3 separate regions of the Homo sapiens genome follow, and all the other regions are linked to region 2. Evidence: fine-mapped expression QTL. A gene starts in region 2. Each other region holds a variant in brackets. All regions are shown on one strand. Distances are from middle to middle.

The links. PIP is the estimated chance that this variant, and not a neighbour inherited with it, causes the effect.
Region 1: its variant is fine-mapped to the expression of MTHFS in B cells (CEDAR, PIP 0.95).
Region 3: its variant is fine-mapped to the expression of MTHFS in whole blood (TOPMed, PIP above 0.99).

The regions. Positions count from the first base shown.
Region 1 is chr15:79,860,312-79,870,826 of GRCh38, forward strand. All of the region lies in intron 3 of ST20-MTHFS (ST20-MTHFS readthrough), which reads right to left. The region is part of intron 2 of MTHFS (methenyltetrahydrofolate synthetase); the gene reads right to left. Among named protein-coding and RNA genes, the nearest start is that of MTHFS, 31 kb to the right of the region's middle. The variant A/C (reference allele first, on the strand shown) is at 5,389.
Region 2 is chr15:79,891,129-79,900,766 of GRCh38, forward strand. MTHFS (methenyltetrahydrofolate synthetase) reads right to left here and starts at 5,886. Exons shown (of 3, transcript NM_006441.4): 1 at 5,744-5,886. The coding sequence starts at 5,860. The region is part of intron 2 of ST20-MTHFS (ST20-MTHFS readthrough); the gene reads right to left. ST20 (suppressor of tumorigenicity 20) reads right to left here. Exons shown (of 3, transcript NR_037653.2): 3 at 7,714-7,997. RefSeq lists a silencer at 5,895-6,194 and an enhancer at 6,335-6,384.
Region 3 is chr15:79,831,267-79,841,781 of GRCh38, forward strand. LOC124903536 (a long non-coding RNA gene) reads right to left here and starts at 8,654. Exons shown (of 2, transcript XR_007064730.1): 1 at 2,260-8,654; 2 at 1-1,709. The variant ATGGAGGATGGCC/A (reference allele first, on the strand shown) is at 5,564.

The DNA of each region.
Region 1 (10,515 bases), 30 kb before region 2:
CCAGGAGGCAGAGCTTGCAGTGAACAGAGATCGCACCACTGCACTCCAGCCTGGGCAACAGAGCGAGACTCCATCTCAAAAAAAAAAAAATGGATACAAATTATTTGCAGCATACATGACAGACTAATGGTTAATCTTTTAATATATAAAGAATTGTTACCAACCTGGAAAAAAATAAATGAATACCAAGAGAAAGATAAATTCCCGGAAAGAAATGGGGCAAAGAACAGCACTTTACAAAAGATGAATTAGAAAGGTTAAAAAACATTTTAGAAAGCTTAGTATATATTTTGAAATTTTCATAAGTAGTGTATTTTAACCATTATAACTTTTCAAAGAAGCAAGGAGAAATTAAAATTTAAGGATTTTTTTTTTGATTAGTACTTCAAAACAAAACCAGAAATACTGATAAGACAAAATTAAGTTACTTCCAAGGTTGAAAATTCACACAGATGCCCACAATGAATTTCTTCTGAGAATAACTTTTTCAATATATTAATGAGGTTTCCGGTTACAGTGTACTTTCTTGAGAGACTTATTAAAAGGGGTATGTTTCCTTCTGATACAACCTCATGGCAAACCACTATTCAAAGTTAAAGACTTAATTACAACTTCCCTTCTGAAGCCTTCTCATGCACTTTAGGCAAAGAGAAATCTCCATCTTGTGTTCCCAGAGCACTCTGGGCACATCCCAATGGGATCCTTAGCACCAGGACTGAAATCACTAGTTCATGTGGAATAGTCATCGTCGTCATCATCATCATCAAGCACTTATATGCACTGGCATTGTACTAAAAGCTTTATGTAAATTTCCTATTTAATCTTCAAAACAATCTAGTGAAGCAGATATTATTACCCTCATTTTCAAATGATCAGAGGCTTAGGTGAAGGGGTTTACTCATGTCCACTCAGCTAGTATGCAGCAGTCAGTAACTAGACTCAACTCCACCTAAGACCAAAACCTTGATCCTAACCACTCCTTATCCATCGTCCCCCTCCATACACCTGTCTTCCCCAACAAAATGTGAACTCCTATGGCCAGACACCACTGCCCCTTATTTATCTTTTTGTTTCCAGGGCATCACATGGAGGCTACCACACAACTGGTAGTCATTAATGCACGTTCATTTGTTATTTCGGCCATTCACTCACTCAGGGAGAGGTCAACATACTCTCATGTGTTGGTGATGAGTACGTAAAGTGGCATAACCTTTTTTAGTAAGCAATACAGAAACACCTATAAAAATTTAGAATTCATAGCCATTTCATGGATAGATGTTGATCCCATGGACTTACTTGCATAACTATGCAGAAAAATATCTATCAGGATGTTCTTTTTTATTTTTATTTGTAATACCTAAAAAACAGAAGCAACCCAAATAGCTATCAACAGAAGACTGGTTAAATAACTTAGAGCACATCAATGCTATGTAACCACTTAAAACACTATGCTAAATCTATATGTGTTGCTATGAAAAGAGTTCTATGGTTTATCAACAAGTGAAAAAGTAGGATGCAAAACAAAATGTGAACTCCGATCCTATCTGTATAAATTTTTTAAAAGGATACAAATATATATATCTAGAAGGATACACAAGTATGTTAACAGTGGTCACATCTGGGGAACAGGCTGGGAAGAAGAGGGGTGGGACTTTTTCTTTCATACCCTTCTAAACCATTTAAATTATTTACCATGTGATTAGTTAGATGGCATGTAATTACTTTTATGAATGAATGAATTGTTGCTCTACTGTTTGGCTTTTTTTTTTCCTTTTTGTTGTTTCTAACACCAACATAGACTAAGATGAAGTACAGTTAACTTGGGTTGGCCAAGACGGCTAACTGAATCAATCCTCTCATATCCCTGTTTTTCATTCAAAGACTATGTCCTTATCTCAAATATTTGGCAGCTTGCACATAAATATGCCTCCTTCCCACCCCCAAAAAACTAACTAACACACCCTATAAGTAACATCAACCTTTCCCTCAAATTTTATTTGTTAAACCTTCAAAGGGTACATGAGAGAGGCAAGTCTTACCTGGGGTCAGCCAATTAAATCTGCTTTTTATCTACGGTTTATCACTAACTGAACATACAGCTCAAAGTACAAAGTTAATTACTACTTTTGCAAGGAGAAACTGAAAATGCTGATGGGTGAGCAGCAGGACAATTCTTGTATTTCTAATGTCTTACTCTCATTGATCATATCAGCCCTCACAGAAGACTATCTTGCCTAAAGTTACCATTCCTCATTCCAGCATCCCTTTATCATTTTATCCTGTCCTTTCTACAGCAAAAAGAGGTATTAAAAAAACTATCTTTACCTGCAGTCTCTTAATTCTAGCAAATTAATATCCATTTCTATATATATGAAGATTCTGCTGTTTTCTCCTTTTAGCTAACCCCTTCCAAATTTATATTTATAGTTTCTCTCTACTTTTATAAATTATACTAGGCTACAAAATAGTTTCAAAAACATTTCACCTAGAAAACCTCATCTAGAAAGGCAAATTGATCTTGGTCCATCTACATTTGCCATGGCCTCATCACCTAGCCACTAAGATCCCTGTTTGTAATATCAGGGCACACCCCAAGACCATACTCTGGCAAGTCCTGAATCAATATCTCCTATGTCCTGACCTCCAGAGCTATATATCCAACTAGCCATCTACCAGCATTTCTGGGAGGTCCTGGAGCCACCTCAAACGGGATTCACTATGTGTCCCCCAACCCCCTACATCTCCTCTCTCTTCTGCATTCTTTGCCTAGGTTAAGAGCATGACATGCAGATGGCAAAGCCAGACTGTCCCTCAACAGCCTCAAGTGGCCTGGAGACTCTACATGCTGCATATGTCAGAACTTGTTCTATCCTCTCCATTTCTAAAAGTGGTCATCATTTCTCATCCATTCGAATCCATCAGATTCCCAAGGGATGGTCCACTCCCAGTTTCTTTGGCTGTCCCTTGGGACAGCCTGTCCTCCTTATTTCTGGCAGAACAACCTTTCCCAAACATAGAACTAGTCATGTTACTCCTATGATTAAAGTCTTTCAATAACTAACTCCCAGCACCTACAAAATAAAGTTCAAATCCCAGATGTGTGACATACAATACCCTTCACAACGTGGGCCTCCAGCCTCAGCTCAGGCCATGACACCAACTGAAATCACAACCTGCCTTGAGCTGAATGCAGCAGAGGCTGCTGGTTGCCCATCTGGACATCATTCTCTCTTTCTCCTTAGTAGCAGAAAACTTTACTCAGGAGGCCATGAATCCCACCGCAACACCACATTTCTCACCTTCCCTGGTAGTTATGTATGACCTTGTGCCTAAGTTCTGACAAATGGGACTTTCAAGGTGAAGGATGCTCTTTTTCTCCCAACACCCTCTCTTTCCTCCTGCTGACTACAATTCAGAGTTGATAGCCGAAGCTTGAGATACCAGGCAGGACCATATGGCATATGCGGCAGGATCTGTCCCTAATGACTGTGGGGCCTGTACAACAGCCACAGACTATAAATACAACTCCCAGACTTCTTTTCCAAGCATCTCACTGATATTTTGAAGTTTTCACTGATACTTTGGAGTTTTCTGCTACATGCAGCCGAATCTGATTCTAACTGATAACCTGAGCATGCCCTCCTTTTACTCGCCTCCACAGCACATGACGGCAGTAAGGAAAGGCACCGTGTGCCATCCCACAAACAGCATGCCTTCGGGGAAAGCAGACCTGGCAGGAAGACCTGGCTCTGCCTTTTGACTGTGGCATGCCCATAAATAATGCTCTGAGACTTACTTTCTGCAACTGTGAAAATGAGATAATAACATAGTCATGATGAGTAATAAGCTTACATATGTAAGAGCACTTAGCATAAGGCTTAGCACTTAGTAGACAAAGGGTAGCTACTAATAATTTACCCATGTCACTGTCTCTGTACAAAAAGTCCTTGGGGCCAGGTACGGTGGCTCACACCTGTAATCCCAGCACTCTGGGAGGCTGAGGTGGGCGAAATACCAGAGGTCAGGAATTTGAGACCAGCCTGGCCAACATGGTGAAACCCCATATCTACTAAAAATACAAAAATTAGCCAAGTGTGGTGGTACGCGCCCATAGTCCCAGCTACTCAGGAGGCTGAGGCAGGAGAATCGCTTGAACCCGGGAGGTGGAGGGTGCATTAAGCCTAGATTGCGCCACTGCACTCCAGCTTGGGCAACAAAGTGAGACTCCATCTCAACAAAAAAAAAAAAAAAAAAAAAAAAAAAAAAAAAGTCCTTGAGAGTAAATGTCCAGAAACTGAGCTTTCATAGACCTGTACACGCTTTCTGGTGCTTACTTCAATATAGTGTAAGAAACTTGACTCATAAGCAGGGTCCAGGCTTATGACAAGTTAGTACCCCCTTGCTTGGCACAGTGTCACACACAGTAGGACTCTCAGAATATTTGTTACACAAGTGAGTGAACAAATACAACACTTTAGAAAGGAAAAGAAAAAGGCAGAGTGGACATAATTGATCACTGGGCTCAGCTCCTGATTTTCATTTGCCTAATTCTGATTTCTTTTTGGCCTTAGGCAGATGGAATAGAGAATATTTTTATGGCTGGCATTTGCAGTTTTTTAAACAACAAAAACTGTTTTTTAAAAAGTCAAAAAGAAAAACACCCCAAAAAAATAAACGTTCACTCCAGGCAAACTTCCAAATATTGTGATGTGTTTTCTCTTTGTTTCAGGGGAGAGGTTCACAATGAAACAAAATATTACAGCAACCTTTTGCAGATTCAAAAGGTTAAATTCAAAATGTTATCAATAATGTAACTCCCACTGTTTTTACAAAGAAAACCTTGATCCATAAAGATACACAATTTCTATTACAAGAAAACGAAGTGGAAATGTACCTGAACTTGTAAAACTGTCATTATTTAAATATAAGTCTTAAAATTCAAGATAAAGACCTTAGCACAAATATTTGACTTTCTACTTTCATTTCCAGTGAAATGAACAAAGGAAAACAAACTTGGGAAAAATGTCTATTATGATTAGAAACCAGGAAAGAATGCCATATCTAAGTCGGAAACTTCGAGGTATTTCTGCAAGATATAATTTAGGAAAAAGGGAATTTGATAATGAAATACATGTTAAAGAAATGGCTGCCTTGGGAAGAGCCGGAAGGAAACCAGTGTGGAACTGCAGTCAAGCCCCCAGCCAGGAGGAGCAGGTATACGTATCGTAACGATGGGTCTCTGGGCAGCAAGTTGCTAAAAAGCAAATCTTGACCCTTCTTGGGCCTCAGACACCTAGTGCAAAGCTGATTTAACGAGGAAGACCACCTCAGCCCTCATCCCTGCTTACCCTCAGCAGTGTGCTAGGCAAAATGTGGGTATGGCCATGA[A/C]TCCTAACAAAGGCTCCATGTTTGGATCTTCTGCCCCTGCAAATACTGGGCTATGCTGACAAAAACCAACCATGGAGAAAATAAATCCTTCATACAGTGGCAAAGCTCCCTCCGGCAGGTGCCTACAATAATCGCTTATTCCCTTCTCCCCTCAGTTTACTGCATCTTTCTCAAGCAAAACAAAATGTAGCAAATTTAAACTATTCCCTTCTTTCTTCATCTGGGCCTGAACACCAACCACACAATCTCTAACAGAGCCCATCAGAACTACCAATAGCAGGCAAACCTAAACCTCTTTAAGGTGAGGGAAGAGAGAAAACAGTCACTGCAGTTTGAAATTTTATAAGTTTTTTTTTTTTTTTAAGGAGGAGGAACAGGAGCAGCTTTTTGTTTTTTTTTGGTCTCTGTGACAGCGATGGTGGCATTCGAGAGGCTAATGGCTAAGAACAAATCCAGCAGCAGGAATATGTCCAGTTCTCATGAATAAAAGGATCTGTGTTTTTTCCCTCAGAGGACCTGATCATGGGTCCAGAAGATAACTATTTGAGTTCAACGGTTTCCTTCTTTCCTAAGTTTTCCCCTTGATTTTCTCTTATGTCTTCCAAATATTTACCTGTACATTATTTGGTGAAAACAGTTACCTGATGGAAGAGTTTGAATCTATACTTCCCAGAAGTAACCCAAAGGCATTTGAAAACAGCAGTGAGAAAGAGTGTCCTGGATAAAGCATAATGAAAAACATCTTGTTGAGAGTTAGGATCTGGGCACAACCCCCAAATAAAAAGGGAGCTGATGTGGATGCTTCTACAATACAGTAGGATGACAGCCAAGCAGACAGTAGGTGTGCAGGATCTCTTCAGCAGGCGAGACCCTGGGACTGCCTCCTATTCAGTGCACGTGCATACACAGAACACGAGGGCAAACACACGACCTTCCAAAACATTTTTTTCTTAAGAACTGCTAGTGATTGGCCAGGCACGGTGGCTCACACCTGTAATCCCAGCACTTTGGGAGGCCAAGGTGGGTGGATCACCTGAGGTCAGGAGTTCCAGACCAGACCGACCAACATGAAGAAACCCCACCTCTACCAAAAACACAAAAAAGTTAGCTGGGCATGGTGGTGGCAGGCACCTGTAGTCCCAGTTAGTTGGGAGGCTGAGACAGGAGAATCGCTTGAATCCGGGAGGCAGAGGCTGCAGTGAGCTGAGATCGTGCCATTGCACTCCAGCCTGGGCATGCCACTGCACTCCAGCCTGGACAGCAGAGTGAGACTCTGTCTCAAAAAGAAAAGAAAAAAAAAAAGTACTCTTTTAGTGCCAAAAAAGCAAATCTGCAAAACCACATACACCAACAATTTATCTTACTTCCCATTTTCCCCCATTCTCCAGCCTCCCCTAACTCACCACTCCTATGAACTATAGTTTCTACAGGATAAAAATAGCCTAATACATCTTTTAAACATTCCTATCCAAACTGGTTCAGGTATATTGTCAGAGCTATCATCACTATCTTTCTCAACTCAATGGGAACTTGAAAGTTAGCAAATTATATAAATGAAGAACAATTCTTGGTTGATTATCACCATCAATTAACTGTTGAGGTGATTTTAGAAAGCCAAACTCTCAGTGGAGTAAAATCAATATGCTCTTTCTAAGGAAATAAGATTACGTAGCAAAAAAAAAAAAAAGGGGGGGACATTGAAGTTTTCTTTAGGCCTCTGTATGTATATTACCATATGTCACATATGACAAATTTATCTCATTTTCACTCATTACTAAGTAGATATTTTTCTGTAATCCAGCTAAATCTTTATTCTCTTGTAGCTTGTTATAACTATCAAATTCTGAAATATTTCCAAACATTTTTAAACGTAGATAAATGAAAAAATAGAAAAAAATGTAATGATGGTCATAAAAAAAAAAAACCAACAGAAGTTTTCCAAACACATTTCTTAACAATGCCTTAGTCACCAGTAAATTACTAGAGCTAGTATATGTGGGACATAAATTTCTAATTAATGTACTAAGATAATGTTTTAGAGAAAGTTTCTATCAGGAATCTAAAAATGACAATTTTCTAAATATAAAGATGAAGAATCAGCACTAAAAATCTAAAGTTCTTTTTTAAATCTTCAACTTGGAAGAGTATCTCCAGTCAATACAGAGACCTACAATCTACTGGGATCATAGAAGAATGCACACTGTAGCTTTGAGTGGAGTGTGTGTGTGAGAGAGAGAGAGCACGAGCGAGAGAATGAGAGAGATCACACACGTGAGAGTGAGCCCAGCAATCCAACGTTGGTATAGACCATGCTAGCATTTTTTATTTTTTATTTTGAGCGAGGTCTGAATTTTCTCTAAATATTTTGCAGTCTGTAGCACAGTGCTAGGAGACAGTAAAAGTAACAGCCAAGGTGTTGCATGCAAAATCAAGTATCTAGCTTGTTTTAAGCAGACTAAACTTAAGTAGGAATTTCCAATGAATAAAGCAGATTAGGGAGAAGCACAAAATATGTAATAGCTTTTATTTTATATCACCTTTTTCTTTCCAATTTCAATGTAGCATTCAATATACAATAGTGAATTTTCTGCAACTTCGAATATAATTTCATGATGTTGAGAATGAGTCATTATTGAAAGAGCTCTGTATCAGGTTTCTGTGTGGAGCAGATTATTTCCTCATAGAAGATAATCTTCTTAGATTCAAAGAGAAATATAGCACGTACTATGAAGGGTTTGGGGAAAGGAGAGGTATTTCTTGGTGTGATGGTTAATTTTATGCATCAACTTAATTGGGCCAACAGGTGCCCAGACCAAATATTATTTCTATGTGTGTCTATGAGAGTGTTTTAGGATGAGATTAACAATTGAATGAGTGGACTCAGTAAAGTGGACAGCCCATCTCAATGCAGGTGGCCTGAATAGAATAAAAGGCAGAAGAAGGAATTTGTCCCTTCTTTCTTGCCTAACTGCATGAGCTAGGCCATCTCATCACATTTCCTGCACAAGGACTAGAATTTACACCATAGGCTCCCCTGGTTCTCAGTCCTTCGGACTTTGAGTAAACACCACTACCTTTCCTGGGTCTCTAGCTTACAGACAGCAGACTTTGAGACTTCTAGGCCTCCACAATCACATGAGCAAATTCATTATAATAAAGCTCCTAAAAGTATAGATATAGATGTAAATATAGATGTACACGCACACACACAAACATAAAACTTATTGGTTCTGAGAACTCTGACTATACACTAGGTGCATTTTTTTTTAATGTAAACCTTTTCATGAAAAATGAAAAAACGGTGAGTGTTGGTAGCTTATTTGATAATACATACAGTACTTTGGGGTACTGTGACTACATCAGGTCATAAGGAATAAAAGTAAGTATGTATTTATGCCACCAGCATTTAATAAAATATACAAAAGGAACGAAAGCAGACTCTTGGCAAATGAAGTATTTTTAGTCATTGTACTTACTTAAAGAGAAAACAACTCCACAAGTATCCTTACTTTGTTGTGGTATTTAATTACTATTTTAAAAGTTAAATTCTATATCTCTCACAATAAAGATGGGGAGAAGGACCAGTCTGAAGAATCAGTGCAAATATTTCCCATTAAAATAGACATATTTCAGGACAAAGCTTTTAACAATGATATTTGAGAATATGCTGCATCTATAATATAAAATTAGAAAACACAGTCATACAAAAGAATAATCTGAGATTTGTAACAATTGCTTAGAGGTTTTTGTTTTATTTTTTTGAGACACAGTCTTGCTCTGTTGCCCAGGTGGGAGTGCAAGCATAGCTCTCTGCAACCTAGACCTCCTGGGCTCAGGCAATCCTCTCACCTCAGCCTCCCAAGCAGCTAAGACTACAGTTGTATGCCAACACAGCCAGCTAATTTTAAATATTTTGTAGAGATGGGGTCTCATTACGTTTCCCAGGCTAGTCTTAAATTCCTGGGCTCAAATGATCCTCCCACCTCGGCCTCCAAAAGTGCTGGGATAACAGGCATGAGCCACCATGCCTGGCTCACTTAACAGATTTTTTTAAAAGATTAATAATTTTAAAATGTTAATGATGGCAAAGGAATAACAGGATAGACAGAAGAAGAACCCAAATCAATAAAATAGACAAGATAGGGAACTTCGGTTATAAACCCAAATGATTTTGAAAGTGATGGGGATAAAAAGATGAGAGAAATATATTACAGATCCAGAAGAACCAAAGTAACTATAATAATAATTTCAAAAACAGAGGAAAGAAGGGATTATCAAAAAAGATAGTTGAAAATAGTTCCCTGGAGTTAAAAAGGACATGAAACTTTAGGATGAAAGAGATGACTAAATACCAATTAATTCACAAAATTAATGAATATTAAATTTGGAAATCAAAAATAACAAAAATTCCTAAAAGAAGTCAAGCAATGAAAAAACAAGTTTCTTACAAAGGAAAACATGAATGACATCAGACCTCACCTACAATACTAATCACCACAAGACAACAGACTAGTTGTCTAGAACACAGGTCACAAACTATAGCCCTAAGACTAAATCTGGTCTGTTGCCTGTTTTTGTAAATAGAGTTGTATTGGAACACTGTCTGTTTTGGTACCGTCTATGGTTTCTTTCATATTGCAGTGGCACAATCGAGCTGCTGTCAAAGATTCCATGGCCTGAAAAGCCTAAAATATTTACTATCTAGCACTTGACAGAAAATAATTGCCAAATCCTGGGCTAGAATTCTGGGTGGACAAAAGAAACAAAAACAAAAAACTGTGACCCTAGAATTCTATCCTATTCAAGAATTCACTGATGTGTACAAAGACAGCCTCAAAAATAAAAGCATTCTGAAAACATACCACTCACGGACCATGCTGAAAAAAACTACTTAAAGGAATATTCCATCTGACCAAGAAATTCATCAAAATACATAAATCAAGAATAAAGAAGATATGCTATAACAGTAGGAACAAGGAATCATGAACCCAGGAAAATTTACAGTTCAGTTTAAATGACTCTTCTCTATACTCTATAATATAGTAAGAAAATAATCGAATGTCAATGAAAAAAATTCTTTAAAGAATATACACATCTTTAAACTACTATTAATTTTAAACACCAGTT
Region 2 (9,638 bases):
GGGACAGTATTTTACTGACAAAACAGCAGCAGATCACAACACTCAGAGAATAAGGGTGCAGGTCAGGCAGAATCCACTCCTCCCTTGAAATCCCAAAGCAACCATAAAAGGCAGAGGAAATCCCCATTAGCTAAGACATCTTCATTCACAAATATGTACAGATAACAAAGGATCATCAAACATTTTGAAAAGTCAAAATACAAAATAGAAGGATGGGGAAAAAAATAAGAAGGGGAGAAAAAATGGACAAACAGGACAGATAATTTTTTGAAATTCTAATTAGTTTTCTCAGACACACTCAAGAAGATAACTGCATTTCTAAAATAACAATAGACTGCTATGGGGAGGAAGCAATCAGGGAATTATGAAATAATCAATGGAAACTAAAATTGTGATTAGCAAAATTAAAACAACTTAGGAGAAAGCCGTGGAGTAGGGGAAAAGGCAAAAATAGGAAAAATGAAAAAAATGTTAAGAAATAGAGAAGATCAATCTGTGATTTTTATTATCTGATTAACAAGAGTTCCAAAAAGGCACAAAGGAAAATAAATAATCAAAGAAGATATACTTGGCTCACACCTGTAAACCCAGCACTTAGGGAGGTGGAGGCGGGTAGATCATCTGAGGTCAGGAGTTCGAGGCCAGCCTGACCAACATGGTAAAACCCCATCTCTACTAAATATACAACAATTAGCCAGGCGTGGTGGCACATGCCTGTAGTCCCAGCTACTTGAGAGGCTGAGGCAGAAGGATCACTTGAACCCAGGAGGCAGAGGATGAGCCAAGATCATGCCATTGCACTCAAGCCTGGGCAACAAGAATGAAACTCCATCTCAAAAAAAAAAAAAAAAAAAAAAGAGAAAGAAAAAGAAAAACACGAGTCTCCATATTGAATGGGGGCCATGGGTGCTGAGCAGAACAAGGAAAATAATTTTAAATTTGAAATTCAAACTATCAATCAAGTATGAAGGTAAAACATTTCCTAATGTATATTTAAAAGTTTACCACCCCCAAAGATACTTTCTCAAAAAAAATTATCTGAAAATATACTCTAATAAGATGAAGGGAAAAGAATCCAAGAAAGACAAAGATATTAGACTCAAAAAGCAGCCCTAACTCAGAAGTGGAGTAAGGAGGAACCCCAGGGCAATGGCAGTGCAATGGGCCAGAGGCAACCAGACCAGAAGAAGCAAGGGGCTGGAGTGTTTTCAAAAAGAGAGTGGATTTATTTTAACAGACGATGAAAAAGAATCTATTGATAAGATAAACACATATTCTTGATTTGTCAAAAAAGGAAAAATAAAGGCAATCAGAAGCTCCTGGAAAAATACAGAAATTAGAAATATGCTCCAAATGGGAACAAAGTAAAAAAGAGAATGATTTTGAGCAATTATGGGGGAAAAGAGAAAAGCTTTGGTACTGACACTTGAAACATTACCTTCCTAGCTACACATATCTAGTGACATAAAGTTATGTCTTTTCTTACATATTCAATCATACAACTTGATTCTACAATGAATACCATCTACAGAACAAAAATACGGCTGGGCGTGGTGGCTCACACCTGTAATCCCGGCACTTTGGGAAGCCAAGGTGGGTGGATCATGAGGTCAAGAGGTCGAGACCATCCTGGCCAACGTGGTGAAACCCCATCTCTACTAAAAATACAAAAACTAGCTGGGCATAGTGGCGCGCACCTGTAGTCCCAGCTACTCGGGAGGCTGAGCCAGGAGAATCGCTTGAACCCGGGAGGCGGAGGTTGCAGTGAGCCGAGATTGGGCCACTGCACTCCAGCCTGGCAACAGAGCGAGACTCCATCTAAAAAAAAATTAAAAAAATAAATACAAGGTATGTATTCAGTGCTTTACATATTTTTGTAAATACTGTTTACTGTAAATACAATTTACTGAAATCTCAAGTTTGGAAATCGGTCACAAATACTGCTCAGTAGACTCATTATAGTTACAGAACAAAGTTTAAATATTACAAAACCTGGCCAGGCGTGGTGGCTCATGCCTGTAATCCCAGCACTTTGGCAGGCCGAGGCAGGTGGATCATGAGGTCAGGAGTTCAACATCAGCCGGGCCAAGATGATGAAACCCTGTCTCTACAAAAAATACAAAAATTAGTCAGGCGTGGCGGCAGGCGCCTGTAATCCCAGCTACTTGGGAGGCTGAGGCACAGAACTCCTTGAACCCGGGAGGCGAAGGTTGCAGTGAGCCAAGATTGCGCCACTGCACTCCAGCCTGGGCAACAAAGCGATACTTTGTCTCAAAAAATGAAAAACTGGCTAGGCGCGGTGGCTCACGCCTGTAATCCCAGTACTTTGGGAGGCCGAGGCAGGCGGATCACGAGGTCAGGAGATCGAGACCATCCTGGCTAACACGGTGAAACCCCATCTCTACTAAAAATACAAAAAATTAGTCGGGCGTGGTGGCGGGCGCCTGTAGTCCCAGCTACTTGTGAAGCTGAGACAGGAGAATGGCATGAACCCGGGAAGCAGAGCTTGCAGTAAGCCGAGATCACGCCACTGCATAACAGCCTGGGCAACAGAGCGAGACTCCCTCTCAAAAAAAAAAAAAAAAGGAAAAAGAAAAAGAAAAATTACAAAACTTGACAACATAAATATAACAATATAAATGTCAGAAACTGACAGAGGGAGTAGAAAACACAGTGAGTAAAGGGGCACTAATTTCCTCATCTTAGGGAATCAAGATATGACATAAACCTGAATTTCTTTACCATTTAAATTACTTCTCTGATAAATTTCTAAGTTATAAAAAGGTACAGTGCCAATAAGAATAAATACGCTTTTCTAAATGAAAGACATCATTTAACACCTTTATTGAGCATTCACTATGGCAAAACACTACACAGTACACTGATGTTTCCAGTGATGATCCATTGGTTAGTCATGAAATCAATAGTGGGCTACAATTTTTAAATGAAATAGAATAGAAAATATTAAAGTTCGAGCCAGGCACAGTGGCTCACGCCTGTAATCCCAGCACTTTGGGAGGCAGAGGCGGGAAGATCACGAGGTCGAGTTCGAGACCACCCTGGCCAACATGGTGAAACCCCGTCTCTACTAAAAATAGAAAAATTAGCTGAGCATGGCGGCACGTGCCTGTAATCCCAGCTACTTGGGAGGCTGAGGCAGGAGAATCGCTTGAACGTGGGAGGCAGAGGTTGCAGTGAGCCGAGATCATGCCACCGCACTCCAGCCTGGGCGACAGAGCAAGACTCTGTCTTGAAAAAAAAAGAAAATATTAAATTTCATTGTATGTGCTTAAGAGCTGTAAAATGTTCCTTGTATGTGTATATTTGTTTGTACAGAGTAAAATGTATTTATTACTGAGGGTCATGGGTCTGCTTTTTAATTTTTCTCTCTCCTCCTTTAATGCCAGCTCTCAGTCGTCATTCTATTGCTGTCAGTGACTCTGTATCTATGTAAACTATTTCCATCTATAGTTTATGAATTCTAATCTTCTACGGAGAAAGACAACGTAGAAGATTAGAAACTGAATTCATCTTTATTTTCCCCATGCCCCTCCAAAATTTGTTCCAATTCCTACCTTCTTTATGCCTAAGGCTAAACACCATTATACCAAGCTCTAAATTTTGGAATCACTGGTGACTCTCCTCCCCTTCCAGTATTCTCTAACCTCTTCCAATCAGTTGCCAAGTCCTGCTGTTTCTCACTTAACAGTCTCCCATTTGCCTCCTTTCCCCTCATCTTCACTGCCCATGCTCTGGTTTGCATATTTTTCATCTTTCACTTGAATTGGCACAACAGCCCCTTACTGGTCTCCATATTTTTTTTCTTTCTTCCTTCCTCAACCCATTATCCAAATGCTGCCATTATACTCTTCCTAAAGGACATAACAAACAATAGGTAAAGCTCTGAATACATCCCTTTACACACTTCTTTAACTCTCACAATCGACCTACAAGAGTGATATTATCCATTTTATAGACAAGGAACCAAAGGTTCTGAGAGATTATGAGACCTGTCCAAGGATATACAGTTAAAAAACAATGGCGCCAGATTCAGCCCAGATCTGTGCAGTTCCAAAGCCCATGCTAAACTGTATCCTGTCATCTCTTGCCTAAATATCCCTACTCACACTCCCCTATCCCATCTTTCCCTTCACCTGAAAGAATTCATCTTGTTCTCCGAAATTCATCTCAAACATTTTCCAATAGAAAGCTTTCCAATTTCCCCTCCCCAAGGCTATGTTTCCACAACATTGGTGTTTACCTTTATCATATATCTGGCTTCAATGCAATTCTTTATTCATGTCTGTTTCCTCTTCTAGGCTCTCTGCTCCTTTAGAGCAACAATCATATCTTTTTCATCTCCACAACCCAGTATATAGCCAAGTGTGCACTACATAGGTGTTCAACATATGTGAATGAATTAGCTAAATTTTAAACAACTAGATAGTAAGGACAAGAGTCTATATCCTTTACATCTACTAAAACACCCAGCAATGCTTCCTCATAATAGCTAAAATAATTCTGTTTGAACGAACGAATTAACATCTGTATAGATTCCCTCATACACACCTACATAGATGAAGAGAGGGGTGAAATGAGCATATATGCTTTACTGCTTTAACCCATAGGCACCTTGAATTTGAGTAAATAACGGATAATAGAATAGTGAAGGGTAATTAAGAAAGCCTGATGGTATAACTAATTCCAAGGAACATCAAGTTTCCAAATATCTGGTGTCTCTGAAGCATGATGCTGGGAAGACAGATCATCAGTTTGACTTACAACAGAATTACAAATACGTACTTATTCAGGGGACATTAAATTTTTCTTCCTCTGGTGTCTAACAAAAATGAGTCCCCAAAAACTCTTTAGAACATGCCTTCACAACAGGATATGACTGCCATTTTATTGATAAGAAAACTGACATTACATAGACTAAAAATACATAGCAGTGCAGTTGGTGAAAGTAATGAAACAGAGGTCTGCTAACCAACAAACACGGACCCTCACTTATTCCTCTCATTTCTCTCTTCTGTTTCCTACGTTCTTGGGAAGCCTGGATATGATAGCCAAGTCTTCCTTTCGTTCACTCAAGAAAAAGCATTTAATGTTGACCAACTCTGAGACAGGAAAAGCCTAGGCCCTGGAGCTACTGAGACACAGCCTTAGCCCTCCATATGCTTAGTGAAGTCCAGTCAACCTCTGAGTTCTGCCCTTTGGCATCTCCACACCTTTTTTGGTGTTCCCTCGTCTAAAGCACCTGCATCTTTCTCTGGCCATTTTACTAATATAACCGGAGTCTTACTCGTAGCTCATTAACTTTAGGCCTCACTGAGGGAACCTGGGCACTCAGGTGTTCACCCATCTCCTCTACCACAACTTTCTGTTCTCACCGTGCTCTCACCACAGCACCGTCATCCCCACGGAGGGTTTTCGAGCACCAAAAGAGCCACCCATGCAAACAAACTCCCCTCCCAGAGATAAATCTGTCAACCCCTGCCGTCCTCTCGCTCTTTAGCCCCACAACTTTCACTACCGGGCCCTCTCCCCGCCATAGTGCCAAGAGCGTCCAGACCACGACTAGGGGGCGTGCGCGCGCCGGGAGGGGAAACGTGCGCGCGCCGGGGGGTGGGGGGGCGCCTAGCCCAGCGCCAGCACGGACCATGCACAGATCAGCAATCGCTGGCCGCCAGGCCTTCGGAGGGTCTGTCCGCCGCGGCTTCCGCTACGGGCGGCCTCGCACCTTCTGGCTCAGTACGCGGGACTGGCGTAGCCGCTCCTCGGCACTCATCGCCCGCAGACGCTGCTTCAGCTCTCCCCGCAGGCTCCGCTTGGCGCTGCTCACCGCTGCCGCCGCCATCTCACGCCCAAGCCGAGTCCAGTCCCGCCCTCGGCGCCCTGGGCGCCCTCGGGTTCGGTCTCCGCCCCTGGCCGCTCCCAGGTGGATCCGCGGCCTAGGGGCGGGTCGGGGCTCGGGGAAGCGCCCCCACCCCGCTTCCGGGACGCGGGCCCGCGGCGCGCCGCGCGCTTACCTCGCCTCTGGCCCTTGGGACCCAGCCCTCGTGCGGTCCCCGTGGTCCGGCTCGCCCTCCCCGGTTAGGGGAGCGGTGGCGAGGCGCCGTCGCTGCCCTGCCGCCTGACCTCCCTGAGCCTGGGCCCTCACCGGGACCGCGGAGGCGGCAGCGCCACTGGCGGGGATGGTAAAGATGGCCGGCAGTACCCACGGTGCCTGGCATCTCTTGTACTGTTCAGTAGTGGGACTTCAGGGGCCAGAAAAGAAGGGCAAGGCAGGACATGTAGCGAAATCGTCACGAGTCGCTTAACTACAGGGATAGGTCTGACAGATGCCCCGATTTCCTTCTTGTGCAAACATCAGAGTGTAGTTACACAAAGTTACTACACACCTATGCTACACACCTGTACAGCGTATTTTGTACCGAATACTGTAGGCAATTGTAAGCACCGTGATACTTGTGTATCTAAACACAGAAAAGGTAATGTGTTGGTTGGCTACCACATCAGTAGGTATTAGGAATTTTTCAGCTCCATTATAATCTTAAGGGACCACAGTGGTTGATGGAAATGTCCTTATGTGATGAATGTATAGATGATACATAATCGGGAACACTGCTAAAGCAATAACTGTAGTGTAAAAGCCAAATTTTGCGGGTTTCTAGTGTGAATGTATTCCAGGTAATAGTGCCCACATAGGTACTTCCTGTTATAACCATCAGTGACTGTTCATTCCCACCACTCAGCTCTGATTAAAACACAAAAATGAATTAAAACTAAAAGCAGTTGGGGGGTGGGTGAGGCACTTGCAGGAAGAGGTAAAAGAAACTGTTAAGTCTTAAACTGCTCCCAGTAGACAGGCGCCTCAGATGGCATAGACGGTTGCCTCTCAGATGTGACTTCCTAAGAAAACCAGAGCTGTCTCTGCCAAAAATACGTCCCTACTGACCGCCCCAGTGTCTTAATCCCCACCGTTAAGAATCACACCTCCTAGGTAAAGCATTAATTAAGTGCCCGGTGAGAATGCACATGGCTTGAGAGGGGAGTTCTGGCTTCTTTATGGAATCTATCAACAGCTTCCAGGGAAAGCTAATGCAAGTCCCAGGGGGACTGTGTTGTAAGAAAAAGGGAAGGCCAGGCAGGTACAGCGTATACATAGTGCAATTAGATTTGCTGACCTAAAAGTTAGAACACGAGGTCTAACAAACTACGTACTTTTCTAATCTGTTCATTTTTACCAAAAAATAAAAATTAAAATTAACACTAGCTCCACGTTGAATCATTTACCAATTTTCTTTGTTCAGAATATCCCAGAGTATCCTGCATATCAGGTTGCCATATCCATCAACCCCAAATGGCAAGCCAGAGAGAGAAGGCTGGGGAGGAGGCATCAATGGAAACTCTTAAGCAGCCAGGGGCACTGGAAACTGCAGAAAGCATGGGAAGGAAGGAGGGAAGAGGGAAGCCGACCTGAGTCTGCTTCTAGCCTGAGTCCGCTTCTCAGTCTAGTCTGCAGTCTAGCCTAGTGACACAGAAAAGGACTTTTGGGGTAATGGCACACCTTAAAAGTCTGCCTGGGGCAGAAAAGACACCGCCTTCCTGGTCATCATCCCATAATTAATTGCCTGGATCCTGTGTTGAGCTTTTACCCTTTGGCTGAATTTCCAGCCAGACTCCAAAACTGAAGACAAAAATGGCATATAGAGAAAAATACATACAATTTATTCATTAAATAGGGACAAAATTTCTGTAACTCTGGAAGGTCAAGTTACATCATCAAAGTTGTTTATTTAAAAGTAGAAGTATGTGTTGGCAATCGTTTTCGTAAGAGTCAGAAAAATTAGGCCGGTTTCACAATATGGAGTGTCCTTTCTGGTCAACAGTATTGCTTCAGGACAGAAGAGCATTTCACAGATCTTTCCTGTAACTTCTAGAAAAGTCATCCAGCCAGATTTAGGCTCAAGCTTCTTTACAAAGCCATTTTCCTATGAGAGAATAAATTTAACATTTTAAAAATCATTGGAGATTAAGTATGCTGGAATAAAAAGCAAAAATATTTTCATTTAAATAATGCAAATAATCTTCTATCCCTCTAAAGGAGCATTGTGTAACAGAAACACAGTGTGGCCTACATCTGTAATTTTAATTTTTGGTAGCCACATTTTAAAAAGTACAAAAATAGGAAAAATTAATTTTTAAGATATATTTAGTGATAATGATTTCTGTATGTAATCAATGTCAAATCACTAATGAGATAGTTTTTTTCATAACAAACCTTCAAAATCTCATGAGTATTTAGTACTTACAGCGTATCTTAATTCAGACTAGCCACATTTTACTACCATAGTGAACAGCAAGCACAGCTCTAGAGGATAAAAAGTCTTTTTGTTCTTGTTCTTGTTTAATTGTCCAACATTGATTTCAATGCACTTATATTTGTAATATGAATTCTATTATACTGTAAACTGCATTGTATTGAAACTCATGAGAACTCACAGTAAATCCAAATTAAACCAATACCTTTGAAGCTATGAAAAGGTTGATGGTTTCTTTTATAATCTACTCTCTTTGTGATCGGACATAGTTTTAAAAATGTAGGATAACCCAATTAACTGGACATTTTATTTAATTTACAATCTATAATCATAGAATCCTCACTGAAAAGTCCCTCTGAGATCATCTAGCCTAATGCTCTCTCTTAACAAATGAGGAAAGTGAGGCCCACAAAAAAAATCAGTTATCTAAGATTAGCCAAACCCTTGGTGCCTGGACCTGGATTAGAATGCAAATACCCTACTTCTTTCCACTCCATACATTTCCAAACAAGTGCCAAAATATTCGAAAATTGTTAAAATAATTTTTTCGAATGTTCATCTAGCAAACATTTGTGGCTGCATCTTACAGGTTCCAGAACCTGGGGTTACAAATGCCTGCAAGTAGCTCAGAGCAAAGTGTAACTAATATTGAAACGTAAACCAAGCATAACCCTTTGATAGTTGGGAGAGATTCGAGAGCTCTGCGGTGCCTTGGAATCATTTTATGAACATCACTGGCAAAGCAGATGAATACCACCAGCCAGGGGGATTTCATTTGAAAGACTTAGAAAGCCATTTTCTGCCTACGTAAGTGTGCGTCGTGCTCTGAGACATGCTGTCATGCCTTGACAGAGGAAGGAAACTGCCCCTCTTCTTCCTCTTTCCCTTCTGCCAGTACATACTCATAGATTACACTCTAGGGAGGTATCCACTTCATTACGCCCCTTCCTAAACACCATATTTCGCAAGTATGATGAGACCCTCTGAAATGACTTTTATTATAACGATAATCATTGTCTATTATCATTGATCAGTTAACATGTCATATACATCAACGTCTAAAGAAAGGACAGTGAACAAAGAAAATATTGATAAATTCAGCCAGATGAAGATTAAAAATTTTTTTAACTATGAAAAACTAAAAAGAACAATAAACTAGGAAAATATTTACATATACCATGAAAGTGTTCATTCAAATGTGAGAGAAAATTCTCAGGCCCTTAATAGTTTAAAAAGGAGAGACCATTAAACAGAGAAATATAAATCATTCACAAGTATATGAGAAAAACATTAATAGCAGTTAAAGAAATG
Region 3 (10,515 bases), 59 kb before region 2:
CAAGGTGAGGCCTTTGTGGCAGCCTCTTTGGCCATGTGAGGACGGCCTGGTCTAGCAAGCGGGTATAGGTCCTGCAGGGGAGACCAACGCTAAGCACCACAGGAAAGGAGCCCTATTCCCAGCCTTCCTGGTACGGGCCCAGTGACTGCCCCTTCAAATCTGTCACATTCCCATAGAAGCCTTTGTAGACTCAGGTACATGAGGTAACTCAAGCAACCAGGCCCAACGTGAGCTGGAAGCTTCAGGACCCCTGTGAGGGCTGGAGAAGAGAGCCAGGAGTCCTCCCCTTCCCCTGCACTCCAAATGAGGAGCAGGTAAAGGGCACTGAAAAGAACATGGGCTTTCAGATCAGAGGACACTTAGTTCCTTGGTTCAAATCCCAAGCCAGCACATCCTTGGAAGATGGCCTTGGCCTCAGTTTCATCTTCTATAAAATCAGGACAGTGATACTTCATAGTGTTGTGAAACTAGATATGCTAATATATGTAAATATATGGAAAGTAGTTGTTCCACACTTCCTCTTCCCCAGCTCCATGTGAGCACATGGAAGGACTTTGGCCAGAGCGACACACCTGTCCTTTCACTCCTCCTCCCCTCACTCCTCCTCACTCTGGGTGGTGAGTTACACAGAAGGAGCAGAGCATGTTAGATTCAGCCCCATCTGGTTTCTTTATTTTGGATCTGACCCCCCACAGGAAGAGTGCTCTTTCTTCAATACCACCTGTATTTTCCATTCATTTTTTCCTCTCATTCTTTCAGTGTGGACATGCCATGTGCTGAGCTCCTGCCCTAATGAGAAAGCCTACGGTGTCTGGCCAGTTCTTCTCGTGAATGGTTGGAGAATGGATGTCTCTGATGTAGGAGTCTAGTACTAGGAAGCTGTATACCCAGGCTACATCCACCAATCCATTATTAATCAAGCTGATCTTTCGACCTAGCCCCATATGACCCCTGTGTCTGTCAGGTGGTTCTGAACTCAGGGGAGGAAGAGTGATATTTGGTGGCTTTCTGATACATAGAAAGTACTCATTAGTACCAGCTACATATGCATCCCCAGAGGCAGGGTCCTTCCACTAAATCTTCTGGTGACTCTCAGTCCACCTGAAGGGACACTTATCCCCCTATATAAAGTAACCCCAAATGAGCAAGAATTGGTCAGCAAGCCATAGTCTTCCATTTCAGTTGTATGATGGACCTTGGGAAAAACAAGAGTTTTATTTCTAACTTGCCTCTGTCCCAGAATCTTGACACCACTCTGCTCTTTGTCAATGTGTGATCTTAAATGAGCCACCACATCCTCTGCTTAGAGCTCCCATCCTCAACCCACATATTTATTTGACTTCCTCCAAGAAAACTTCAGATACCATGGTCTGGAAGACACAGGTTGCTTCTCTTTCCTCTCCACTACCCCAGGTAGTTCTAATCACAGGGCCCTGATTCCCAACCCAAACAAGGCCAATCAGAGGCTCCCTTCCAGGGATTTAAATATTGAGCAGAGATACCCTGGTGGTACCCTAAGAGGTTTAAAAGTTTCTACCACTAAGATTTCTGGGGCTCCCCTGCTTTGTGTCCTTCCTGCTGCCTATGTTTAGTTTGATTTTGCAAACTCCCCAGTATCATTCTGTTGTAGTTCAAGTTCCCCAGGAAACAGATTGAGCTGGTGATTTGTGTGCAGAAAGATTACTGGAAAGTGCTCTCAGCAACAACACCTGTGAGGGAGGAAAGGAAGCAGGATTGAGCAGAGACTAGGACCTGAAATGAAACTGTGCACTGCACATAGGCCTCAGCCAATTCCTGGGGAGCTGGAGCTAGGATGGCCCTTCAGAGGTGTCCTGCCTTGAAGCAACGAAGGCTTTGCACCTCCAAAATGACCAGGTATTGGGTATAGGCTGCCATCAAGAAGGGGCTGTAACCTTGGGCAAGGTGGCCCTCCTTAGCCAAGGACAATTGCAGGGGAGGCCTCAGCTCAGAGCTACCTGCCGCCAACATCCTGGGAGCTGGAGGAGAGCATACCTCAGTCCTAATGAGGAATTGGGAGGCATGCCACAGCATCTAGTCCTCCTTCCAATAGCTCGCTTTTTTCTTACTTTAGTCTTTGCTTGAAGCAAAGAACCATAACTGATATACAAAGCAATCTTAGACTATAGACTCCAATTTACCTCCTGCTCTTAGAGACCCTCTTCAACATCTAAATCAAGGTTTATCTGTCCACCTCAAATTACCCCCCATTCAAAAACCAGAACAAGAACAAGAACTCACATCAACAGGAATGCTGTGCGAGCTGTTAAGCAGTGTGGGGTTCTGCTTGGCAATCAGTCTATGACTGTCAGCTCTTCATTTCCAGTAATGATGTACAGAAGGATGTTAGATGGGACTTCTCCTTTGGTCTAGAATTTTCCACAAAGCAAGGACAATAAATGACAAGTATCACCATATTCTAAAGAGAGGTAATGAACATGTTGTTTTAGACTGGGTCCCCAAAAAAGCAGTGCCTGGGACAAGGAATTGCATGCAGAAAGTATATTTTGGGAAATGATCCCCAAAAAACAGGAGTGGGGACTGGGAAGACGGAAACAGAAGGAAGGCCAATTTGAGGGTGAATTATCCACCTGGTTCCCACCATGGGCACAGAAGTTTGCTGCTACTAGCCTAACAATCCTCTCAGGAATGATGGAGAATACACCTCGGAATTGTCTGCCAAAGGGTTGGAAGACAAGATAATTTATCCACTGGCTTCTAATCCACACTGGCCAAGCATTCATTACCCCTTGAGGTGTTAACTACAACACACTTCCAGGTTTGTACATGCACCAGAATGACTGAGAAGGTCCTTGCAAGGGTCTCACTCAGATGTGACATTCCAGGGCTGAAAATCATGCAGGTGAGGAGAACTGCTGTCTGGCTTCACCTGTATGCAGCCAGTCTGCTGTACCCAATGGCTGGAGGGAAAAAAGTGGTCTGAAAGGATGTAGGTACAGGACAAGGGGTGTCCAACATGCACATCCACGCAGGATTTACCAACAGAGAGCCAGAATGGCTCTTTAGTCGCCGCCACCATCCTTCTCCAGGTTGTATTAGAAAAAAAGAGATTAAGCAGACTCTTTGAAGAAAGAGGACTTATAAGTGTAAGGGTGCTGTGACATTTTCCTTCCCCTCCCCACGATTCCCTGCCATCACTCCAAGCCAAGTAAAGGCTGCTTCAGAGTATGGAAGTGTTTGCCAAAAGAGGAATCTACCTCCTGGCAGAATCAGACACCCTGGTGCTACTGTTAGCTCTGGGAGGAGAGGAACAGCAGTTCCTGGGAGAATGTGACACGTGACTTCCAGCACTTGGGGAAGTAGCAGAACTCTGACAGTTGTGGACTGTCTGGAGCAGCCCTCAAGAGTAGCATGGGAGCAGGTGACACTTCCAGTCTGGCGTGCAGCCAATTACCTATTTAGTCGAGTAGTCACCTCAAGTGGAACTATTAATAGACTCAAGTCATCCTGAAAGGACTTGGTCAAGAAGGCTGCCACTGGGCTAGGGAACTTCAGGAGTGTGCTTCTGCAGGGCAGGATCTGAGCGGAGACTGTCAGAAGTAAGCTAGAGAATGGTACAATACACACAGTGCCAGCAGAGGTTCTCCATAAAAACCACAAAGGAAATCTAAGAAAATCCACTGGGCATTTGACACACAGAAGGCACTGATGGCCAGGTTATACTAGCACTGATTCGAGGTGGCTTTGCCTTTCTCCTTGACTGTCAGAACCTTCAAAGCCATTAGACAGGTTGTGGAGCAAGGAAAATGAAATTCTACACCAAGACTACGTCTGAGCTGGGAGAGGAGGGGGACATAGAAGAAAGAAACAAGCATAAAACTGGATAAGAAAATGAAATTTTGATTTAAGATTGGGCTGAACTTTTTGATCCCTGAAAATGGAACTTCTTTTTATATCTGAAATGTGACAAAAAAATGAAAAGATTTTCCCTAGATATGTTCCTGGGCAGGAAAGGCAGATCCAATTGATCTGAAAAAGAATAAGTTGATTGTACCTTCCAGGACTGGGAGTCATCCTTGAAACCAGATGTAGGCTGTGGTCCTCACCAGATGTTAGCACTTGGAGGACAAGAAGGCATATGAGACCAGAGAACATACCTGGGACCAGCTGCACACCTGCAGAAAGCCACTGGCTTGAGGACTATACTTCCTCCACCCTATGTAGCCATTTTTTTTTTTTTTGAGATGGGGTCTCACTCTGATGCCCAGGCTGGAGTGCAGTGATACAATCTTGGTTCACTGTAGCCTCAACCTCCTGGGCTCAAGTGATCCTCCCACCTCAGCATCCTGAGTAGCTGGGACTATAGGCACGTGCCATCATGCCCAACTAATTTTTTTAATTTGTAGAGACAAGATCTATGTTGCCCAGGCTGCCTGTGTAGCTTTGGTGTCAGAAGTCATCTCTGCCAGACAAAATCTGCTGCACCTGTAGACAACTGGATATGATTCTCATGGCTGGCAAGAGAGTATTCCAATTTAAGCTGAGCTGCCCCATGTCTGTCTGTGATATTTGCCTATTCTCACATTAAATTTACCTCTGGATAGCAGATTTTAGATCCCCTATAGAAGTGTTCCTCTAATTTTAACATGCAGAAGGCACCCTGGGGTGTTTATGTAAAATGCAAATTTCCAACCCCCATCCCCAGAGATTCTGATTTAAGAGGTAGTCTGTAGAAAACAGTTTGAAAAATAGTGCTCTAGAAAACAGTGCTGTCCAATAGGACTTTCTGTGATGACAGAAATAGAGCACTATTCAATATGGTAGGCACTAGCCAAATGAGCCTATGTAGCAGTTAAGATGTGGCTACCATCTTAACTGCTTACCAAGGAAGTAAGTTTTAAATTTTATTTAATTTTAATCAATTTAAGTTTAAATTGTCCCATGTGACTAGGGCTTCCACATTGGACAGTGCACCCTAGAATCTTGTTACTCAAAGTGGGCAGCAAACAACAAGCAGCAGCAGCAGCACCCAGGATTTGTCAGAAATGCAGAATTTCAGGCCCCACCCTAGACACCTCAGACCTACTGAATCACTATCTGCATTGTATCAAGATCCCCAGGTGATCCACGTGCCAATAAAGGTGAATACTCACTTTCTAGAATATTTTGGTGGTTCACTGACTCTTCCATTCCCGAATCATCCACTATCTGTTAACACACTTTCCTTGTTATAGACTAATTATCATATTCAATTGTTTAAATCTAGTTCTTACCCCACATTGTTGGTACCTAGCATTATTGGTCTGAAGGGTATAAAGTGTGTGTGTGTGTGTGTGTGTGTGTGTGTGTGTGTGTGTGTGTGTGTTTGCGTGTGCGTGCGCGCACATGGAGGAGGGTGGGGAGAAATGGGGATGGGGGGAGAGAGAGAGAGAGATAACGCAAGGTTATAACCAGGCTGGAAAGGGCCCTATCTGCAAGCTAAGGGTTTGGACTTTATTCCTTGGGCAATAGAGAACCATCAAAAGCTGTTAAGCAGGTAGGTGGCTTGGGCAGAGTTATGTTTTATGAAGATAATCATGGAAGT[ATGGAGGATGGCC/A]TGGAGGATGGCCTGGAGTATGGAGGATGGCCACACAGATAACTAATCTCTACCGTCCTCTGGTTCTTACATTAAGTATACCTACAGGGAGTAGGACTTGCTATCTTATCTTACCCCTAGATTTGAGGAACAGCAAGTACTTAGGACTTATAGCAGTGTATCCATTCTACATGGTCAACATCTACAGTATCCCAACCCAGATCTTCAGAATAATATAGTATTCTTTATCTCTAAGCTTGGGAGGAAATAACAAACACTTTTGTATTTCAATCCTGAAGAGATTATTTCTCGGTGATAAACCAAATGTTTGCCATTTATAGTAGTGAACTCTTTGGGATCTGACTCATCATTGAAACAACAATTTGCTTTGAAAGTGTACTTTTCAAACATACTGTTTTAAGACTAAAAGGATAAATAAGACATTCACGGGACACATAATAATCAAAGCAATAAAATACTACAGGTTTTCCTTCAGATATCTTTTTCATTGGCAATGATATGGTCTGTTATCATAAGCCTCAATATTAAAATGAAAAACAGACCAGGCAGGGTGGTTCACGCCTGTAATCCCAGCACTTTGGGAGGCTGAGGCAGGCAGATCACCCGAGGTCAGGAGCTCAAGACCAGCCTGACCAACATGAAGAAACCCCATCTCTACTAAAAATACAAAATTAGCCTGGCATGGTGATGCATGCCTGTAATCCCAGCTACTCAGGAGGCTGAGGCAGGAGAATCACTTGAACCCAGGAGGCGGAGGTTGTAGTGAGCTGAGATCACACCATTGCACTCCAGCCTGGGCAACAAGAGCGAAACTCTGTCTCAAAAATAAATAAATAAAATAAAATAAAAAAACAGTTGCAACTGGTGATGGGAAGAGGCAGAAAATGGGAAGGGGAAGAGTAGGGGACTTAAAAAGTATTTCTAGTTTTTAATCTAGTCTTGGAAATCCTTCGATATACTCAGAGATAGATCCTGGCAGCCAGGGGAAGTCTGAAAGGGAAAGACCCAAAAGAAAGGGGTCTGTTGTTTCCTAGGTGACAGGGGTCTTAAAGGCACTCTGTTCTTAAAAGAATAACTTAAAGAAGTTATTCCACCCAAATACTGTGGGCAAAATAACAGCCCCAACCAGAGCATTCAGACAGAAGACAAAGAGGCTTGTATTGGGACACAGGGGGACCAGAAAGATGAAGAAATCCTGGGGAGGCCAGTACCAGCAAGAGGCTACACACACAGATACAGTCACCACACACAACAAAGGAGGGACTGATGGAGTTCATGACCCTGTAGCTCAAGCAGAGCTGCTAAGTGCAGTGACCAGTGAACCTAACCCACTGGGGTTTGGGAAGAAGACATTAGAACCTCTATTAATATTTACTTTTCATCTTTAAAAGACAAGAAATTGCATTTTGCTAAAAGTTAAAATTTAGATTGACATCAGCCCCTCCCTCCACTTGCAAATCAGAAGGTCCTATGTCAGGTACAGTACACAAGCTGTGGTGGGAGGTGGCAGGGGTGTAGGAGTTAGATAACGTGGGAGGGGTGTTTAGTTGATTTCAGCATATTGAGATGTACTGCAGTTCCTAGGTATGTGCCCAGACACAAGGGCTTACCTATTAGGTAGTTTTTACTAAACCGAGCCACTGGACAAGTAGCTTAAAAAGATTCTTGGTGGCTCACGCCTGTAATCCCAGCACTTTGGGAGGCCGAGGTGGGCAGATTATGAGGTCAGGAGATCAAGACCATCCTGGCTAACACGGTGAAACCCCATCTCTATTAAAAAAAAAAATACAAAAAAAATTAGCTGGGTGTGGTGGCACACACCTGTAGTCCCAGCTACTTGGGAGGCTGAGACAGGAGAATTGCGTAACCCGGGAAGCGGAGCTTGCAGCGAGCCGAGACCACACCACCGCACTCCAGCCCGGGAAACAGAGCGAGACTCCATCTCAAAAACAAAAACAAAAACAAAAAGATTCTTGCAAAGAAACAGCAGACCAAGGATAATTGTAATACAGGTTGAACATCCCAAATCGAAAAGCCAAAATCTGAAATGCTCCAAAATCCGAAACTTTTTGAGTGCCAACATAAGGCCCAAAGGAAATGTCCATGGGAGCATTTCAGATTTCAGACTTTCAGTTAAGGATGCTTACCTAGTAAGTATACAATGCAAATATTCCAAAATCTAAAAAAATCCAAAATCCAAAACACTTCTGGTCCCAAGATTTCAGAGAGGAGATATTCAGCCTGTAATGCAAGCAAAAATGACAACACTAGTTGATACTTCTGTTCCTGGTGCAAGCTGTTCATGAGCCAGGAAAAAACATTAAGTTTTACCAATAAGTCAGCCAAAAAATTTGAAACTATCACAAAGATTTTTTAAAGTAGGTATCTGTGTTCGCCATGGTTAATGATGAATCTCACTCTTCAGATACACACAATGAAAAGTGTGAAGCCATCACAATTAGCAGAAGCTACAGATCCGGAAGATAAGACGAACCTCCACCATGTGTTCAGCAATACTTAACATCATAAGATACTAACTCCAATACTTGTTAAGCAATGCTCACTAAATATAGTCATAAATGTTTATAAACCTTTCAAAAGTTTTCTCACTTAATAGCAAAAGACAAAAAGTAACATACCATTTAAAAATTACTTCTTCTTCATACCATGGAAATGTGGATGAAATACTGGTGAAACAATTTAGGGGGAAAAAGACCCTGACGCATCTTTTTGTCAGGAAGTACTATTGGATGACAAGTAGAAAACACTGCTGACAATCTGAAGAAATAAGTACAGGAAGAAATTTTTCAGGGCGTGAGGCTGAGTAGAAGGAGAGATGTTTCCAACATGTCTCCTCTTACGGTACCACTGCAGGAAGAAAGACATTAAGGTAGCGATGAAGTGGTGAGGATATATTTCTCAAAATTAATCTACCTTAAAAAAAAAAAACAAGTTTATTTTATGAGCAAACTAAGTCTAATCCCTGATGGAATGGCTACTTTGACTGAAATGTTTTTTTTAAAGGTGAGATGGGGCTGGGCACAGCAGCTCAGGCTTGTAATCCCAGCACTATGGAAGGCCGAGGTGGGCAGATCACTTGAGGCCAGGAGCTCAAGACTAGCCTGAGAAACATGGCAAAACCCCATCTCCACTAAAAATGCAAAAATTAGCTGGGTGTGGTGGCACACTCCTGTAATCCCAGCTACTTGGGTGGCTGAGGCAGGAGAATCGCTTGAACCCAGGAGGTGGAGGTTGCAGGGAGTCAAGATCACACGACTGCACTCCAGCCTGGGCAACAGACAGAGGCTCTGTCTCTAAATATATATATATATTTTATATATATATATATATATATAATATATTATATATAATATATATATATAATATATATAATATATTATATATATATATTTTATATTATATATTATATATATATATAAATATGAGATGGTAGATTCCACATTAAGAATTGAGCAACAGCATTACTAAATAATTCACAGGCAAGACTTTCATGTGCTAACAGTATCACTGATGTGAATTTTATAAAATTAAGAACTTCAACATGTAGTAGAATATTTACAACTCTTTGGGATGCAATAGGAGGTACCCATGAACAATACTTTGATTCACTTAAATTTCTCTGATCATCTCAAGGTAAAATACTTTTAAAAGAGCTACAAACTGGCCAGGCATGGTGGCTCACATCTATAATCCCAGCACTCTGGGAGGCCGAGGCGGGCAGATCACGAGGTCAGGAGTTCAAGACCAGCCTGGCCAACATAGTGAAACCCCGTCTCTACTAAAAGTACAAAAATTAGCTGGGCATGGTGGCGGGCACCTGTAGTCCCAGCTACTTGGGAGGCTGAGGCAGGAGAATCGCTTGAACCTGGGAGGCGAAGGCTGCAGTGAGCCGAGATCACGCCACTGCACTCCAGCTGGGGTTGGGGGGGTTGGACACAGAAAGATTCTTGTCTCAAAAAAAACAAGCTGTAAACTCAAATATGAGTTTTATGTGTATTTTTCGCACAAAGAGCAAGTATGCCACATTTCTGACCTTTCTGAGATTGTAAATGGCCACTAGTAAACTTCAAAGAAATAAATACATCTCATTTGAATTTTCAGAGTGAAAGTTATAGTTCATCACTGAGACACAAAGGAACTACTTTCAGAGACTTGTAGTATGAAGAGTGCATATAAAAATGGCTATTTGGAAATATTTTCATCATTATATGACTATGTTGCCAAAAACTATTAATAGTGTGACACCTACAAACACTTTCACATCTACACAACTGAAAAATTTGTAAGCAGAATTTTTCTAACTTGATTTAAAATCTTTGAAAGAATTTCAGTAAGCTTCGAACCTACTTGTTTTTTATGTTTTTGTTGTTGTTGTTGTTGTTGTTGTTGTTAGAGACGGGGTCTTGCTCTGTCACCCAGGCTGGACTTCAGTGCCGCAATCATAGCTCACTGTAACCTCGAACTCCAGCCCCTACTTTTTAACAAAGTAAATGTGTAGCACCTTCTGATTAACATGCAAAAATGACAGATTCACATCAAGAAAATGGATATTTACCAGCCAGATTTAAATTAAAAAAAAATTATCTTTGCAAAATTGGTAAATAGGATTGAAAATTTTAGTAGGTATAGTTTTCCTTCCATCTGAATCTGCTTCTCTAGAAGGTATCCTTTTCAGCTCTAACAGCCCTTAAGACCAAATATTGAAATAAACTGAAATTAGAACCAGAATTTTGAATCATTCAAAAGGTGTTAAAATAAGGTTTTCAAAAATAGTAAATGTCCAAAAGATTTCATTTAAAAAATATTGCTTTTTTAAAAAGTCCATTATAAATTATATATAACATATTCTACTTCAACATCATCTCATGCTGCTCTTGATCATATTGCTCTTTTTAAAAATGAGTATATTACACTTATTT